Linked DNA regions of Homo sapiens: region 1 is linked to region 2. The links come from fine-mapping of genetic effects on gene expression. A gene starts in region 2. The other region holds a variant in brackets. All regions are shown on one strand. Distances are between the middles of the regions. Region 1 has its middle 44 kb from the start of TOB1-AS1. Region 2 holds the start of TOB1-AS1 (TOB1 antisense RNA 1).

What was found.
Region 1: its variant is fine-mapped to the expression of TOB1-AS1 in thyroid (GTEx, PIP 0.98). The same link has a PIP of 0.9 or more in pancreas.

Annotation. Positions count from the first base shown.
Region 1 is chr17:50,906,268-50,914,767 of GRCh38, reverse strand. No RefSeq gene overlaps it. Among named protein-coding and RNA genes, the nearest start is that of TOB1-AS1, 44 kb to the right of the region's middle. RefSeq lists enhancers at 4,117-5,026, 5,027-5,937 and a silencer at 5,206-5,500. The variant C/T (reference allele first, on the strand shown) is at 5,338.
Region 2 is chr17:50,861,205-50,869,718 of GRCh38, reverse strand. TOB1-AS1 (TOB1 antisense RNA 1) reads right to left here and starts at 3,040. Exons shown (of 2, transcript NR_038458.1): 1 at 2,502-3,040; 2 at 1,348-2,223. It overlaps TOB1 (transducer of ERBB2, 1), which reads left to right and starts at 3,365. Exons shown (of 2, transcript NM_005749.4): 1 at 3,365-3,661; 2 at 5,556-7,496. The coding sequence starts at 5,702. The coding sequence ends at 6,739. RefSeq lists silencers at 3,030-3,539, 3,550-4,159 and an enhancer at 4,700-4,749.

The DNA.
Region 1 (8,500 bases), 45 kb before region 2:
TCCTCAGAACTCCTGACCCTTGGTCAATTGAGCGCCTACATTCCTGAACTACCAGAGCAGGGAGATGGTCGGGGCGGTGGGGGGTCTTAGGGATTACCAAGTGTGTTGTGGGGAGGGAAAGTTACATTTTACTTGACCGTTTAAAAATATTCTATGCCTGGCTGGATGCGGTGGCTCACGCCTCTAATCCCAGCACTTTGGGAGGCCGAGGTGGGCTGATCACAAGGTCAGGAGTTCGAGACCAGCCTGACCAACATGGTGAAACCTCATCTCTACTAAAAATATAAAAATCAGCCGGGCTTGGTGGCACGTGCCTGTAGTCCCAGCTACTTGGGTGGCCGAGGCAGAAGAATCACTCGAAGCTGGGAGGTGGAGGTTGCAGTGAGCCAAGATTGCGCCAGTGCACTCCAGCCTGGGAGACAGAGCGAGACTCCGTCTAAAATAAATAAATAAATAAATAAATAAATAAATTCTATGCCTAAGGTGAGACCAGATTATATTTATTTGTCCTTCTTAAAGTTTCAAATTAAAGTTGTAAAATATTTCAAATATACAGAAAAGTACAGAGTAATATCTCAGCCACAAACCCACCACTAAATTTGGACACATGTAAATATTTCACTCTATTCTCTTTAGGTCTCTTTCAATCAAAAATTAAATTTTGGCAATAGAACGGAAGTGACATCCCTAGCCCATCCTTCTTCCTCCCTCATCAGAGGAGACCACTAACTTGAAACCAGCACATTTCCTATGCATGTTTTCATACTTTTACTATGTACACGGGCCCATAAGCAACCTACGGTGTCATTTGCAGGTTTAGAAAATTAGGTGTGAGGCCGGGACGGTGGCTCATGCCTGTAATCCCAGCACTTTGGGAGGCAGAGGCGGGTGGATCACCTGAGGTCAGGAGTTTGAGACCAGCCTGGCCAACATGGCAAAACCCTGTCTCTACTAAAACAAAAATTAGCCAGCATGATGGCAGGCGCCTGTAGTCCCAGCTATTCAGGAGGCTGAGGCAGGAGAATCGCTTGAACTGGGAGAGGGGCAGAGGTTGCAGTGAGCTGAGACTGCATTCCAGCCTGAGCGACACAGCAAGAGTCTGTCTCAAAAAAAAAAAAAAAAAAAAAAAAAAGGAAAAGAAAAGAAAGAAAGAAAGAAAGAAAAAAAAAAAAGAAAATTAGGTCTGAAAATGTGAGTTGCAGACTGATAGTGCCAGGTTTTCACCCTCTGTGCTCCAGGGCCTGGCCACTGAGTGATCTCCAGGCTGGGAGCTGGAGGCAGCAGCTCACAGTGCCTTGAGCAGCTCCACTCTCCTGTGATTTATACATGGGGGGTTCGGCATGAGATTGCCTTGGAAAAACAGGTTCCACAGTTTGAAAGTCACAAATCTAATGAAAATTCATCTGACAGAGAATGAGGCCAGTGCCCAGAGAGGGGAGGTAACTTGCTCCAGGTCACACAGCAGGCTGAGTGGCAGAGCCTTCTGATGCCCAGTCCAGGAGTCTTGCCTTCCCCACTGTCCAATAAGGAAACATAAATGGGCACCCCGACCCAAAGGATGATTTGCTCCTGGGTCAGGGAAAGGCAAAGGGGTCTGGACAGGGGCCTCTGAGGAGGCCTCTGACCTCCCCTGTGGGGAGTGGAGGGCACAAGGAAAGTGCCAGACCTGCACTCTCCAATATGGTAGCCATGGCCATGTGCCCATGGGCACTGGAACAGTTAGTCCACACTGAGATGTGCCACAAGAGTAAACTACATACCAACCAGATCTTGAAAATTTAGTATGAAAAAAGAATATAAAAGATCTCTTTACTTTTTAAATGGTTTATGTGTTGAAATTATAATATTCTAGACATATTGGGTTAAGCAAAATATATTCAAAAAATTAATTTTACCTGTTTCCTTGTTTTAAATGTGGCTATTAGAAAATACTATATTCTGGCTGGGTGCAGTGGCTCATGCCTATAATCCCAGCACTTTGGGAGGCCAAGGCAGGTGGATCACCTGAGGTCAGGAGTTTGAGACCAGCCTGGCCAACATGGTGAAACTCCGTCTCTACTAAAAATACAAAAATTAGCCAGGCATGGTGGTGCACGCCTGTAATCCCAGCTACTTGGGAGGCTGAGGCATGAGAATTGCTTGAACCCAGGAGGTAGAGGTTGCAGCAAGCAGTAAGCCGAGATCACGCCACTGCACTCCAGCCTGGGTGACAGAGCGAGACTCCATCTCAAAAAAAAAGAAAAAAGAAAATATTATATTCTATGTGTGGCTCGGGTTATATTTCTATTAGACCATGCTGCCCCAGATCTGATGCCCAGTGGCTGAGGCAAAGTAGCTAGACCACAGAGACAGGGACTAGAGGAGGACAGTACACAGGAGCCTTGAGCTGGAGGTGAGGGGTCTGTTTCCACAGGCCACATGTGGAGACTACATTTTGATCAGGAGCAGATAGAACAAATAAATGCCCTCCCCTTCCTACCTCCTAGGTCAGGGGCTTTTCTCTCTGGTCCTCCAGGATCCAAGCTTGCCCTTGTCTCTCTCCCAGAGAGCTAAGTGTGAATCAGAGCAGGCCCTCTCTGCTTGGTACTTGTACCTGCAGACCATCGGTCTGCACAGCCCTGGGGAAGGACAGTGCGGACACCCTTTCCCAGACAAGCTTTCCTTTTCTGCATGACAACAGGGGTTTCTGTTGCCCCCTTCCCTCCCCTTCCCTTCTGGTGGAGTTGAGCACTGCAGCTGGGCTCTTCCTGAGCCTCTACATCACTTGATCTCAGGGAAAGGGTCACCCTTGGGTTCAGTGTGGGTGCAGGGGCTCTCCCACAGTGCAGCAGACACATACTCCAGCTCCTGGGGATGACCGGGGGCCACGGAATGGCCCGAGCCTCAGGATACAATGATTCTGGTCTGGCATTGTGGGAGATGCCCAGCCAAATGCTGGGGAACCAACCCCTCCCCACCGAGCTTCTGCCTTCTCTTGTACCACTGACCCGGTCTGCGATTCCAGCCAATTATTCTGTCTTCTCCAGAGTTGGCAAAGTGTGACACTTCCCTATTAGAAATCTTCAGCGATTTCCCTGTGCAGCTGGGAGCTGTCCACAGGCAGCTTCTCCCTGTTAAGGTAGGGGTGAGGAGGAGGGGACAGGGGTCTGCACCACCTACCAGAAAATGAGAAAAACATCAGGTGCTTAAGTGCATATGACAGATAACAAACTTTTCTCCTCATGGAGGAAACAGAATCCAGGATATAACAACTTTAGAGTTTTCAATATATCGGGGCCAGGGGGAGGGGGAGGGAATAAAAACAGTATCTTCCGCTTCCAGACATTAAAAAATTATATATGTCACAAAAGTAATACAAATGCACACAGTAAAATATTCGAATAAGACTTTTTTTTTTTGAGACAGAGTTTTGCTCTGTTGGCTAAGCTGGAGTGCAGTGGCATGATCTTGGCTCACTGCAACCTCCACCTTCTGGGTTCAAGTGATTCTCCTGGCTCAGCCTCCTGAGTAGCTGGGATTACAGGTGCTGCCACCATGACTGGCTAATTTTTGTATTTTTAGTAGAGACAGGGTTTCACCATTTTGGCCAGGCTGGTCTCGAACTCCTGGCCTCATGTGATGCACCTGTCTCGGCCTCCCAAAGTACAGGGATTACAGGCATGAGCCACAGCGCCCGGCCCAAGCCCAAGCCCAGCCCCCAAAGTCTTGAAAATATGGATACATAATTCATCTTTCATCACTGGCCTTAGCAAATCCAAAGGTGGAAGCTAATAGGAAGCTCTGAGCCCTTCCCTCCACCCTGGGTGCTTTGGGACTCCAGATAACTAAATTTCTAAAAAACAACTTACCCAGAAACGTGCCCTCTAATTTAGAAAAAGTTGCCAACAGAGGACTATGCTCCAGAAACCACAAACTATGAAGAATGAGCATAATACGTGTTGTGAGTTCACTGTTTTAATCAAATAAAACCTGCAACAAAGTTAATCTGACACATAGTTAATGAGATAATCATTGTTGCGCTTTGTGGGAATTAGACATTAATGGGAGGCAGTTTTTATAAATGATGGTAATTATATTGTTGCCTTTGCTCAGCCAAAATGTAAAAGTTTTTTCTTCTCGTTTCGTTACTTCCCTTGAATGTGCCATCCATGTACCATCTAGATGATGAAGTTTCCTGTGGGTTTCTGTGTCATTTCTTCACCATCGCAGCCCCACCCTGCCCCCACCCAGACCACAGGCAGACAACAAAATTTCTTGAGCACCTACCCTGCGTCACTATGCAAAGCACTTGGCTTGGAAGATCTCATTTAATCCTCACAAGAATCTCCAGAAATAAGTATTTTTAGCACATAGGTGACAAAAGAGAAAACTGAGGTTTAGGCTGGTCACGCTGCCCACAATGACAGACCCAGGCATGAGCCAACCCAGGCAGTCTGACTGCACCTCTGGAGCAGAACCACTGTGCTGGGCAGCCCCCTTGCCTTGACCCCAGCTGGCCTCTGTGCCCAGTCCCTGTGCTCCCCTCGCCCTCTGGGACGCCACGGGGCCAGGCAGTTGAGGGCAGCTAGGGTGTCAGACTTGCCCAGAGGGACGTGGGCTGCAGCAAGTGGAAAGAGAATCATAGCAGCCACTGGCTTTGCAGCCACACGGACCAAAGTTCAAATCCCAGTAACTCACGCTCTGGCAGTGTGATCTTGAGTATCACGAACACCTCTGAGCCTCGGTGTCCTCATGAAATGGGGAGAAGAGTTGAGGTTCTCGTAGTGATCAGCGAGCTGATGTCTGTGCAGGCCTAGCACAGGGACTGGCACACAGGTGGGGGTGAGCCCCGAGACCCCAGACCCCTTCCCTGGAGGGCACAGGAGTGGTGGAAGGGACAGGAGGTTTTCCAGCCCCAGTATCCAGGAGCCTTGGCACAGGGACTCTGATCAGGGGAGGGAAAGCAGTGAGAGAGCATAGCTTCCCAGAGAGCTCTGAAGGGGTCGGGGGACCAAAGGGGAAAGAAAATCACAAGCTCTCTTTGGGACTACCTGTAGGGTGAGCCAGGTTTCATGAGCAAGGAAAACCTCCACTTCATTTCCAGTCTCTCCATAAAGCCTGATGTTCCTCCTTTTGTGTTCCTCTGGGTTATAACAGGGTTAAACCCTATATTCCAGCCCGCAGCACAGGAAGGGGTCAGCCAGCAGGAGGTAACCCCTGGTGGAAAGGGAACAGAGAAGCTGCAAACACTGTCCAAAACAAACTTCTGCCACCTTACCACGTTGCCCTGGGCCTGCCCTATTTGCCGTCACCAGCAGAGGACAAAGAAAGGTTATGTGCAAAGGTACTTTGTGTTCC[C/T]GCGGCAGGGGGCCAGCGGGGAACTCTCGTCACCTGGTTGTGCTAGGGATTCCAGGGCATGCTCTAAACCACAGAGGAGGGCGGCCTCTGAATGGGGCCACGACAAAACAGGCCTGGGTGAAGCTGCTATTCGTCTGCTATGAGACCTGGAGGGGACTCAGTCCTCCAGCCTTGGATCACAGGACTCCCCAAGGCTACAAGGGCCATTGGGGGTGTCAGAGTCCTGGGACCCTGACCAGCTTCCCAGCCAGCCTCCAGGAGCGCCGTCATCCCTGCTGCAGAGAGAACACAGAGATTAAGAGTTATAGGCTTGGCTGGGCCAGATGCTATGGCTCACACATGTAATCCCAGTACTTTGGGAGGCAGAGGCAGGCAGATCACCTGAGGTCAGGAGTTTGAGACCAGCCTGGCCAACATGGTGAAGCTCCGTCTCTACTAAAATTATAAAAATTAGCCGGGCATGGTGGCACATACCTGTAGTCCAGCTGCTTGGGAAGCTGAGGCAGGAGAATCGCTTGAACTCAGGAGGCGGAGGTTGAAGTGAACAGAGATCATGCCACTGCACTCCAGCCTGGGCAACACAGCAAGACTCCGTCTTTAAAACAAAAACAAAAACAAAGAGTCACAGGCTTTAGAATCAGCCGCACTTGGGGTCAAGTTTCAACTCTGCCTCCTTCCAGCAGTGGGACCCAGGGCAAGCAATCAATTTCCTTTGAGCCTGAGTTTCCTCATCTGTGAAATGGGGCTAATCGTTGGGACTGTTTTGAAGACGCATGTCTTCTGACTCGTACACTGAGCACAGTGGCTGACTCAACTGTCAATGCCAGACATGCATAATGACAATATAAATGTAATGATAATTCCTTCCAGAAATACCTGTCGAGCACCTGTGACAGGCCAGGCACTGTGCAGGGTGCTCTTGAAGATATGAAGGTGAGTAAGACAAGTCCCACCCTGTCTGGAGGACATGCCCAAGAATGATTCTAACCAAACCTGAGAATGCTGAGTGATGGGAGGGAAGGCATGCAGAGGAGGTCAGCATAGGCATTCAGGGAAGCCTTCCTGGAGGAGGCAGCACTTGAGCTGGGCCTGGGCGGGTGGCTAGGACTGTGGATGTGGGGAGGAGAGGAAGGACATGCCTACATGAGGAAGGAAGTAGAGTGAAAGAGCTGTTCAAGTTTAGGGCACACAGAAGCTCCATGTGGCTGGAGTACAGTGCCCAGTGAGGACATGGGGGGTGGACAGCATGCCAGGTGGGACAGAGCGTCACTGTCCCCCAAATACACCATCTCCCTCTGCCTTGCTGGGTGACCTTGAGCTGGGTACTCTGTGTCTCTGAGTCTCATATCTCTCATTTGTGAAATTAAAGGTCTGGAGTGATTAGTGGTTCACCACCTTTCCCCCAAGAACTTTAGTTACTCCCTGTTTTTCTCCCCATTGTCTCGCATACATGTTGTGTCCTTGCATGAAGTCACTGAAGGTTTTGATCAAGGCTACGGATGATCAATCACAGGTGATGTGAAAAAGCCCCCTGGCTCCAGTGTGGTGATGGGTGGGAAGATGGGAGGCCCCCACCATGAGCCATGAGGGCCCTGGTGAGGACTGGGCTGAGGGAGGTGAAGGAGAAAACACCATTAGGAACTGGAGCTCTGGCCTAGAAGTCCTGACAGGGGCTGAGGGGAGTTAAGGGTCAGAAGGCAGAGCCTGGGTGATTGACGGTCAGATGTATAGGTTGGGGTTTCAGCCAGAGGGGCATCCCTCCCATCCCCAGAGGGAGAACAATGGGTTGGTTTAAACAAATTGAATTTGAGGCACCTCTAAGACATCATGGTAGACTGTCCAGTAGGGAATGGATTTTTTTTTCTTTTTTGAGACAGAGTCTCGCCCCAGGTTAGAGTGCAGTGGTGCAATCTCGGCTCACTGCAACCTCCGCCTCCCGGGTTCAAGTGATTCTCCTGCCTCAGCCTCCTGACTAACTGGGACTACAGGCGCATGCCACCATGCCCAGCTAATTTTTTTGTATTTTGTTTTTGTTTTTTAGTAGAGTTTTTTTTTTTTTTTTTTTTTTTAGTAGAGACAGGGTTTCACCACGTTGGCCAGGATGGTCTTGATCTCTTGACCTCATGGTCCACCCGCCTCAGCCTCCCAAAGCGCAGGGATAACAGGCGTGAGCCACTGTGCCCAGCCTTTTTTTTTTTTTTTTTGTTTTTTGAGACAGAGTCTCACTCTGTTGCCCAGGCTGGAGTGCAGTGGCGCAATCTTGGCTCACTGCAGCCTCTGCCTCCCAGGTTCCAGCTATTCTCCTGCCTCAGCCTCCCCAGTAGCTGGGATTACAGGTGCCTGCCACCATGCCTGGCTAATTTTTGTATTTTTAGTAGAGACGGGGTTTCACCATGTTGACCAGGCTGGTCTCAAACTCCTGGCCTCAGGTGATCCTCCTGCCTCGGCCTCCCAAAGTGCTGGGATTGCAGGTGTGAGCCACTGTGCCCCCCTGAACTCTTAACCAGTCTTTCTCATCCCTTGGAGAAATCCTAAAGTGCTCACAGAGGTGGTCCCTTCCCATTTCCACTGGCAGTAGCTCTGAATTCTGGTGTTCATTGTGGGCTGGGCGGGCAGAGGCAGAAGGGTTTGTGATGGGAGCAGGGTTTTCTGCCCCGGTCCTGCTGGCCCTTCTCTATTCTGTACTGGTCTTTGATGGGGGCCAGGCATTGGTAGGTGGGACTGATGATGGGCCTAATGATTGACTAGTGTATTCGCCAATGGAACACACGTGGGCCTCCTAACCCAGCAATACAAGGGGTCTGGAAGATCACCTGTTCCTGGCTCCCCACACCCCACCCCAGATCAGAAAAGAGCAGGGAGAAAGAGACCTGTTGCTGTTTTTTATCTTTATAAAATCCTAACAGAAAATAGAATATTTATCTGTGAGAAGGGTACACTGGCTTAACTAAAATGTCAAGTTTCATTGCTGGAATTATGAGGGACATGATAAATGTACATTTATTCAGTAATTACTCATTCAGGATTCTGTTTTGTATGAAACAAAACCAGGACATGCTGCTCAGAAGCTCTGATTAGTTTTGCTTCATACAAAATCAGCTCCTGGCCGGGCATGGTGGCTCATGCCTGTAATCCCAGCACTTTGGGAGGCCGAGGTAGGCAG
Region 2 (8,514 bases):
TTTTTTTTCTTTTTTGAAACGAAGTTTTGCTCCTGTTGCCTAGGCTGGAGTGCAATGGCGCGATCCCAGCTCACCGCAACCTCCGCCTCCCGGGTTCAAGTGATTCTCCTGCCTCAGCCTCCCGAGTAGCTGGGATTACAGGCATGCGCCACCATGCCAGGCTAATTTTGTATTTTTAGTAGAGACAGGGTTTCTCCATGTTGGTCAAGCTGATCTCGAGCTCCCGACCTCAGATGATCCACCCACCTTGGCCTCCCAAAGTACTGGGATTACAGGCGAGAGCCACCGCGCCCTGACTTGCAATCTGTATTTGAAGAACAGCTGCAGTATATATGTTAGGAACATTGAGTTTTAAGGGCGGAATATTTTATTTATTTATTTTTTTGAGAGAGAGTCTCGCTCTGTCGGCCAGCAGGAGTGCAGTGGCACGATCGCGGCGCACTGCAACCTCCATCTCCCAGGCTCAAGCAATTCTCCTGCCTCAGCCTCCCAAGTAGCTGGGATTACAGGCGTGTGCCACTACACCCGGCTAATTTTTGTATTTTCAGTAGAGACGGGGTTTCACCGTGTTGGCCAGGCTGGTCTCAAATTCCTGAGCTCAGGTAATCTGCCTGCCTCAGCCTCCCAAAGTGCTGGGATTACAGGCGTAAGCCACTGCTCCCAGCCAAGTGTGGAATTTTTTTTTAATTGAAGGAGACATTAGATATGATCTAATTCAACCCTTTTTATAGGTGAGAAAACTAAAAGTTTATTGAAACTGGTGTGAAACTCAGACCTCCCAGTACCCACCCTTCATTGCTTTTTCCAGTATGCCATGGGGCCTCCGTGTGTGTTGTTTGTGTGGTGTGTGTGTGTGTGTTTATATTTGGTCAGACATCTTCTTACACTCCTAGGCCAAGCAGCAATAACTCATAAATTTTTGACATCTACATTTCTGACTTAAAAATGCTTTTAATGCTACTGATATTTAATCAGTACCTATCAGATGACTGCTCTCATATTTCAAATCTGGAATTACAGATTGAAGACATTCAGAAAAGAGAACTTGTCCCTTCTCTTTAGAGAATTATTGAAAAGTACAGATAAGTTTGACAAAATTACAATTCATCTATCTTTAGACATTTTAGTCTCAGCCATGCCTAATATGCCCCCCCAATATAAAATTACTAATCAAGACACATGGTCCCGCAGTTCTAGATGTTTGGTACAGTACCATTATTTGCCTAATGGTAAAAGAAGTTGTGCTTCTAGAACACGTGAAAAATGAAGTGTTTCTTTTGGTAAGGCATTCCAAGGATATCCTGTCTAGTTTCTTGAAATTTCTGTGCTTAATTAGAAAACTAAAAATAACTCACTTTTATTACAGATGGACTTGTCATTACAGAAAACCAAAAACAAACAAATAAAAAAAGAAAACTGAACAAATCATTTATATTTGACGCTTTGATGACATTTCAATGCAGAGGAAGGGACATTTTAATTTAAATGCTTTCACAGTTTTGCCATACTTTCACATTTCAATTCCACTCCTGTTTGCAACTAAAAAACCCAAACACTCAAAAAAAAAAAAAAATCACATTAATCAGAATTTAAGGAGTCACTTAGTAAAACTATGTTTTAGGAATCTGTACAATAAACATGAAATCAGTCACCTGACCACTCCCCACCCTCAGCCCATTCCACAAACCCATCTTCCCACCCCTTCTCCTACGCATTGAGCCTTCAGAAATACCCTTTCTCAGTGCGGTTCCTTCTAAAAAGGAGAGGCGGGAGAGTCAGGGTGGAGAAGGCGGCTCCAACCAGATTTTGCGTCCACAAAGCCAAAAGCTTCTAGGCCTGGCATGTACGGCGGGTTTGTGCCCGAGGAGCACAGCTGGTCTACACGGGCCCGCCCCGTAGACACCCTACTCCTCGGTGAGCTGCGGTTTAACTTCCTTATAGCAGGTTGAGAGTGCAGGCCCCAACGTTTGGAGGGGAAGGCGGCGCCCCAACTGGTGTTTTTCCAGGAAGTGCTCCAAGAATGGAGAGGAGAGGGGAAAGGGGAAAGGGGAAGGCCAGGCGATGGGCGTTTCATTCATTGCTTCTTTCTCCCCGTCCCCTCCTTCGCTCCCCCCAGACTTTCCCCTTTTCCCAGTCCGAGTTTGACGTCGGTCTCCTGGATACCAGGCAGCCAATCGCCTCGTTGCGAAGGGACCAGCGCAGCCAATCAGGCGTCGTTGCTACCTGTGAGTAATATTTTTAGCTGAGAGGGACGCTCGATTCCACTCCCGATGTAATTTCGTGTATTTCTCTGGGGCAGGTTGTGAAAAAGGCACTTACCCGCCCCCCACCACGAGTCCCTCTCTTACCCCACTCCCTAGGTACCCGCACATATTTCAGCCAAGAATGATCTTAAACGCGCTTTACAAGCAGGCACCGCGTTTATTCTGTGCACCTGCGATCCAGCAAGCCCTAGAAATGCACGCATGCGTGTGTGTGTAGACATGGACACAGATACATACGCAGTTTGGCCTCGTGTCGCCACACTCTGGGCACGGCGTGGGCTGGGACATTTGGAATAAACGGATCCGAGTCGCAGCCGGGGTCGCACCGGGAGGCCTGAGGCTGCGGAAGCAGTTAAACTGCCGGCGGGGCGGGAGCTGTGGCGGCCTCCCTTCCCCACCCCCAGCCCGGCTCCACGTCTTTGGGTTCTGCAGCTGCCACTCTCTGGGTGGCGGTTGGCCTAGGCCTTGGGGTGATTAATATTCAATTAATCGGGTGCACAAGTCCCGGTCACAGTTTGCCCTTTCTCTACCCCGCCCCTGGGGTGGGCTGGAGGCCGATTTGGTAGCTATTCCACGAGCAGGATCCTCCTTGGCCGCAGACCCCCGCGGAGAGGGCACTTTCTGGGTACTCTTGCCGCTCCTCCAGCCCCGGTTCTCCTGAGCCGCTTCGCCACCAGCTTCGTCCCCCTCCCCCTCTGCCCGGCGCTCTCCGCCTAAACCGGGCGTCAGCCGCCCTACCCCACCCCTTTCTCTCTCATTGGCACGTCTGCCCCCACAGTCCCTTTCCAGACGTTCTCTTCATTCCGTCCCCAGTGCTCCGATCGTCGGTTCATTGGCCCTCCTGGAGCCCGGAGGGTGCGGCTTCCCCACCCCTGCGTCCGCCGCGCGTCCGGACAGGGGCAGGCGGGACTTGGCCAATGGCGTCGGGGGGCAGGGCAGGGGCGGAGCCGGCCGGCGGGGGACCGGGGTGCCGGGCGGGGAGCGCGGGGAATGGCTGCGCCGCCGGAGCTGTGTGACGCGGAGCGGGCGCGCGCACCCCGACGGAGGGGATGGGGGCGGGGAGGAGGCCATAAAACGAGAGGCGGGGCGCGCGCCGCGGCAGAAGGAGCGAAGCTCTGGCCCGGCGTGTAGCGGGCGCACTACGGGGACGCTGGGCCGGGCACCGGGCTGTGTGGAGAAGTGAGCGCGCTCGTCTGACCCCCGTGCCCGCCACCCCGAGCCACTAACGGCGATCTCCCAAGGCCTGCCCGAGGCCTCTGTCCTCTGTCCTCAGCCCCGCAGCGGCAACGTCTTGCACTCGGCGAGCTCGCCGCTCCCGACCCTCCCGCGCCCCCGCCCTGCCGCGCTGCTCCCCGCCCAGCCGCGGGTCTGTGGTCCAAGCCGCCCCGAAGCAGCCCGTAAGTATCTCGGGGCGCCGGGCGGGGTCGGCGAGGAGACGGGAGCCCCGGGCCCAGGCGGCGGAGGAGGGGCTGCAGCGGCGTCGAGCCCTGGGCCCTCGGGAGCTCGGGGACGGCGGGGTCGCGGCCCTGGGCGCCGAGGGGGCAGCGCCAGGACCCGAGGGGAGCGGCTCCGAGGGGCCGCCGGCGCGTCGGGCTCGTCCTGGGCAGTTGGCCGGGGACGGGCGGCCCGGGGCGAGCTGACGGGAATTGGGGGGTTGGGGTGCCCGGAGGAGCGACGAGCTCGCGGTGGAACGCTGGGGTTCGAGGGGCCGGTGGCCGCGAGGCTGAAAATGGTGCCGAGGAACCGGTGCTCCCCCAGGCTCTGGCCGGCTCCCAGGAGCCCGGGGCGGGGGCCACGGGGCGGGGAGCAGCGGGTCGGGTTACGGCGGGGGAGGGGAGCGGCTGACCCGGCGCCCCGACCTGCTCGGTGCTGGGTGCCCAGCCGGGAGAGGTTGCTCTTCCATTTCCCGGGCCTTCCTCCTCCTTCTCCGAGGAGGCTCGTACTCTCTTCCTCCTCCACCTCCACCTCCTCTTGCTGTTGCTGCTGCTGTAGCGCTTGGGCTCCGAGGGCTGTGAGCAGAAATCTAATGAGATCTAACTGGCTGTTTATGTAATTCTTCACACTCCTGCCTGTCTTAAGGCGTTGCTTTGTAACTACCTTCCACCGAGCCTGAATTTCGCTCGGCTGCACCTTCAAGCAATTGGGCTTAATCAGCTGCCTCTGCCGGCACTCAGGCTTTTGACTTGGAAAGTGTTTGTAGTTTGGGGGCAGCCAGAGATTCTTTTTCCCTTTGTCACCACGAATATGGAAAATAGAACAGACGAATTAAGACCAACTTGATTTTTAAACGTACTTTTAAATCAACTTCAGTGTGCAAATAGATCCCTTTCGCAAATATCTTCTGTTTGCCCTTGATCTTTTCTTATCCCCACCCAGTGCTGATCCAGCAAACGTTTAAAGGTCGACCTTACCATACTTGCCTCTCCGGCTGTTACCGTGAGAGGGAGGGAGGGAGAGAGGGACAGACGGAGGTTTTTTAAAATCAGACTAAAACTCAGAAACCCTGGCCTTAAACAGAATAATCAATAGTTTTAATTTGTGTCTTTGCTTTTGTTATACTTGCTGCCGAATAGGTATTTTCAGATTTAGAAAAATACACATTGAAAACAAAAGGCCCAGAGAAGCTGGATTTTATTATATTGTATGCTCTTAGTATACTTAAGGCCGAAACTATATAGAATAATTTGGTTCATAATTATTTACTAGGATGAAGTTCATTTAGTACTCAGTGTCTTTAATTTTAGCATCATGTACTATGGAAATTAAAATGATCTTCCTAACGTAACCAAATTTTTAAATGTCAGTGACAGAGCAGATTTAAACAGTATATATCCAAAGTAAACTAAAACATGGATTCACTTCTAAGTTGGTGAATAACAATAAAAATTACTACCTAAAAGTGGCATCTATATATATGGGGGTGGGGGGAGGATGCTGAGTACAATAAATATTCTTGTGAGAACTGAGGAGAGAAGAATGCATGTTCTAGAGATTTTTCTTCTTAGAACTCTATTCAGAAACAGGTTTTTAAAAGCATTATTTCATTTGTAAATCTACATTTTCCTGTGTCATTTTAAACTTTAATAAACGATTTTCTATTTTATGTTTATTTTGTGCTAGTAACAGTTTTCAGGCTTTCTGTCCTAGTAGACATTTTCTTTTTCTTTTTATCCTTAGCAGACTAACACAGGATCTTAGACATTTTGAAAGGTGAAATTACTTTGGAGGGGGGAAGGTCATGGGACTTATATTACATTTATCTTATTTGGATATGTTTGCTTTTGTTTTAAGGAACAAGATCACTCAAGGTGAAGGATAATCTACTAATACCAGCACTTTGAATGAAAATTTGTTTCTCTGCCACAAACTGAACATCTTTTTTTTTTTTTTTTTTTTTTGGTGGGGGAGTTGAAACCTAATTTTGTGGCGTAGCAGCTATGCAGCTTGAAATCCAAGTAGCACTAAATTTTATTATTTCGTATTTGTACAATAAGCTTCCCAGGAGACGTGTCAACATTTTTGGTGAAGAACTTGAAAGACTTCTTAAGAAGAAATATGAAGGGCACTGGTATCCTGAAAAGCCATACAAAGGATCGGGGTTTAGATGTATACACATAGGGGAGAAAGTGGACCCAGTGATTGAACAAGCATCCAAAGAGAGTGGTTTGGACATTGATGATGTTCGTGGCAATCTGCCACAGGATCTTAGTGTTTGGATCGACCCATTTGAGGTTTCTTACCAAATTGGTGAAAAGGGACCAGTGAAGGTGCTTTACGTGGATGATAATAATGAAAATGGATGTGAGTTGGATAAGGAGATCAAAAACAGCTTTAACCCAGAGGCCCAGGTTTTTATGCCCATAAGTGACCCAGCCTCATCAGTGTCCAGCTCTCCATCGCCTCCTTTTGGTCACTCTGCTGCTGTAAGCCCTACCTTCATGCCCCGGTCCACTCAGCCTTTAACCTTTACCACTGCCACTTTTGCTGCCACCAAGTTCGGCTCTACCAAAATGAAGAATAGTGGCCGTAGCAACAAGGTTGCACGTACTTCTCCCATCAACCTCGGCTTGAATGTGAATGACCTCTTGAAGCAGAAAGCCATCTCTTCCTCAATGCACTCTCTGTATGGGCTTGGCTTGGGTAGCCAGCAGCAGCCACAGCAACAGCAGCAGCCAGCCCAGCCGCCACCGCCACCACCACCACCACAGCAGCAACAACAGCAGAAAACCTCTGCTCTTTCTCCTAATGCCAAGGAATTTATTTTTCCTAATATGCAGGGTCAAGGTAGTAGTACCAATGGAATGTTCCCAGGTGACAGCCCCCTTAACCTCAGTCCTCTCCAGTACAGTAATGCCTTTGATGTGTTTGCAGCCTATGGAGGCCTCAATGAGAAATCTTTTGTAGATGGCTTGAATTTTAGCTTAAATAACATGCAGTATTCTAACCAGCAATTCCAGCCTGTTATGGCTAACTAAAAAAAAGAAAATGTATCGTACAAGTTAAAATGCACGGGCCCAAGGGGGATTTTTTTTTTCACCTCCTTGAGAATTTTTTTTTTTAAGCTTATAGTAAGGATACATTCAAGCTTGGTTAAAAAAATAATAATAAAACATGCATCATTTTTCATTTGCCAACCAAGCACAAAGTTATTTTATACTGACTGTATATTTTAAAGTATACTCTCAGATATGGCCTCTTACAGTATTTAAGATATAGCAAGGACATGGCTGATTTTTTTTTATAAAAATTGGCACTAATAAGTGGGTTTATTGGTCTTTTCTAATTGTATAATTTAATTTAGTACAAAGTTTGTAAAATATCAGAGGATATATATATATTGTTTCTACGACATGGTATTGCATTTATATCTTTTTACTACAGTGATCTGTGACAGCAGCAGCTTCATGTTGTATTTTTTTTACTGAAATTGTAAAATATCCATCTTAAAGACATCAACTATTCTAAAAATTGTGTACAGGATATTCCTTTAGTGGTGGAATTAAAATGTACGAATACTTGCTTTTTCAAAAAAATGTATTTTCTGTTAAAAGTTTAAAGATTTTTGCTATATATTATGGAAGAAAAATGTAATCGTAAATATTAATTTTGTACCTATATTGTGCAATACTTGAAAAAAACGGTATAAAAGTATTTTGAGTCAGTGTCTTACATGTTAAGAGGGACTGAAATAGTTTATATTAAGTTTGTATTAAAATTCTTTAAAATTAAAAATGCCTATTGTCTTTGTTTTTAAGTGTTTTCTGAAGATCGACCTCTGGAGTTATTATGTTGTAAATGCTAATGATGGAAAAAGGCCTGACTCATTGAGTCACGAAGGAATAATGGAAAGCAGTTGCTCTACTGATGTACCAGATCGTGGTTTGCCACATAAAAAATGCTATCAAAACTATAGCCTGACCAGTGCTTGGTACAACTTTATTTTTTAACAGCCCTCTTCAGTCCACATTTGTCTACCCCATTATAGAGATGGTATGGTAAGGTTAGCTATACAGCAAGTTTCAAAATGTCATGCTGACATGGAGGAGTCAGGTGATAAGATGAAATTCCTTCGTGTAATCTGAGATGATTTATTTGAAATTTATATGGAGAGAGCATTGGATCAGTTTTCTGTTTTTGCTGAGGAAACTTGCTTGGACAAAACGGCTGACTGAACTTAGAAAAATTTACATCACTTTACTAATCTTTAAAGTTTAGCTATTGCATATAGCTAGAGAACTTATGGTCAAAATCTATTCACGGCTGGACAGATGGTTAGATGTTAGCATTTTCATTTTCCCAGCAAAAACGCTTATGTATTTAATTTTTTGCAAGTGGGTACCCAACCTGCTGGTTTGAAGGATTTAGAGATATTGACAATGTATCAAATTGGAGTGGCTTGGTGAGGATGGAGTTTTTTAAAACTGAAGAGTTGGGGAGAAGAACACTAAATGAGTCATTTCACTAAATGTCAATTGATACAGTATTGACATAGTATTGGTGAGAAAGTTAACGTCCATTTGATACAGTGTTGACATAGTATTGGTGAGAAAGCTGTCTTAAAAAACTTTATATGTACTTTTATAGTAAGAAACCAGCACTGCCTGGGTTACCAGTGAAATAAATTTGGTCTCATGAGCTTTTTGGACACCAGTCTACAAAAGCCTTTTGTCATTTACCCATGCAGTGTAGAGCAATACAAAGTTTTAAGGAAACAAGCACTGGAAATAACAGAGCTAAGCTGTTTGTCAGC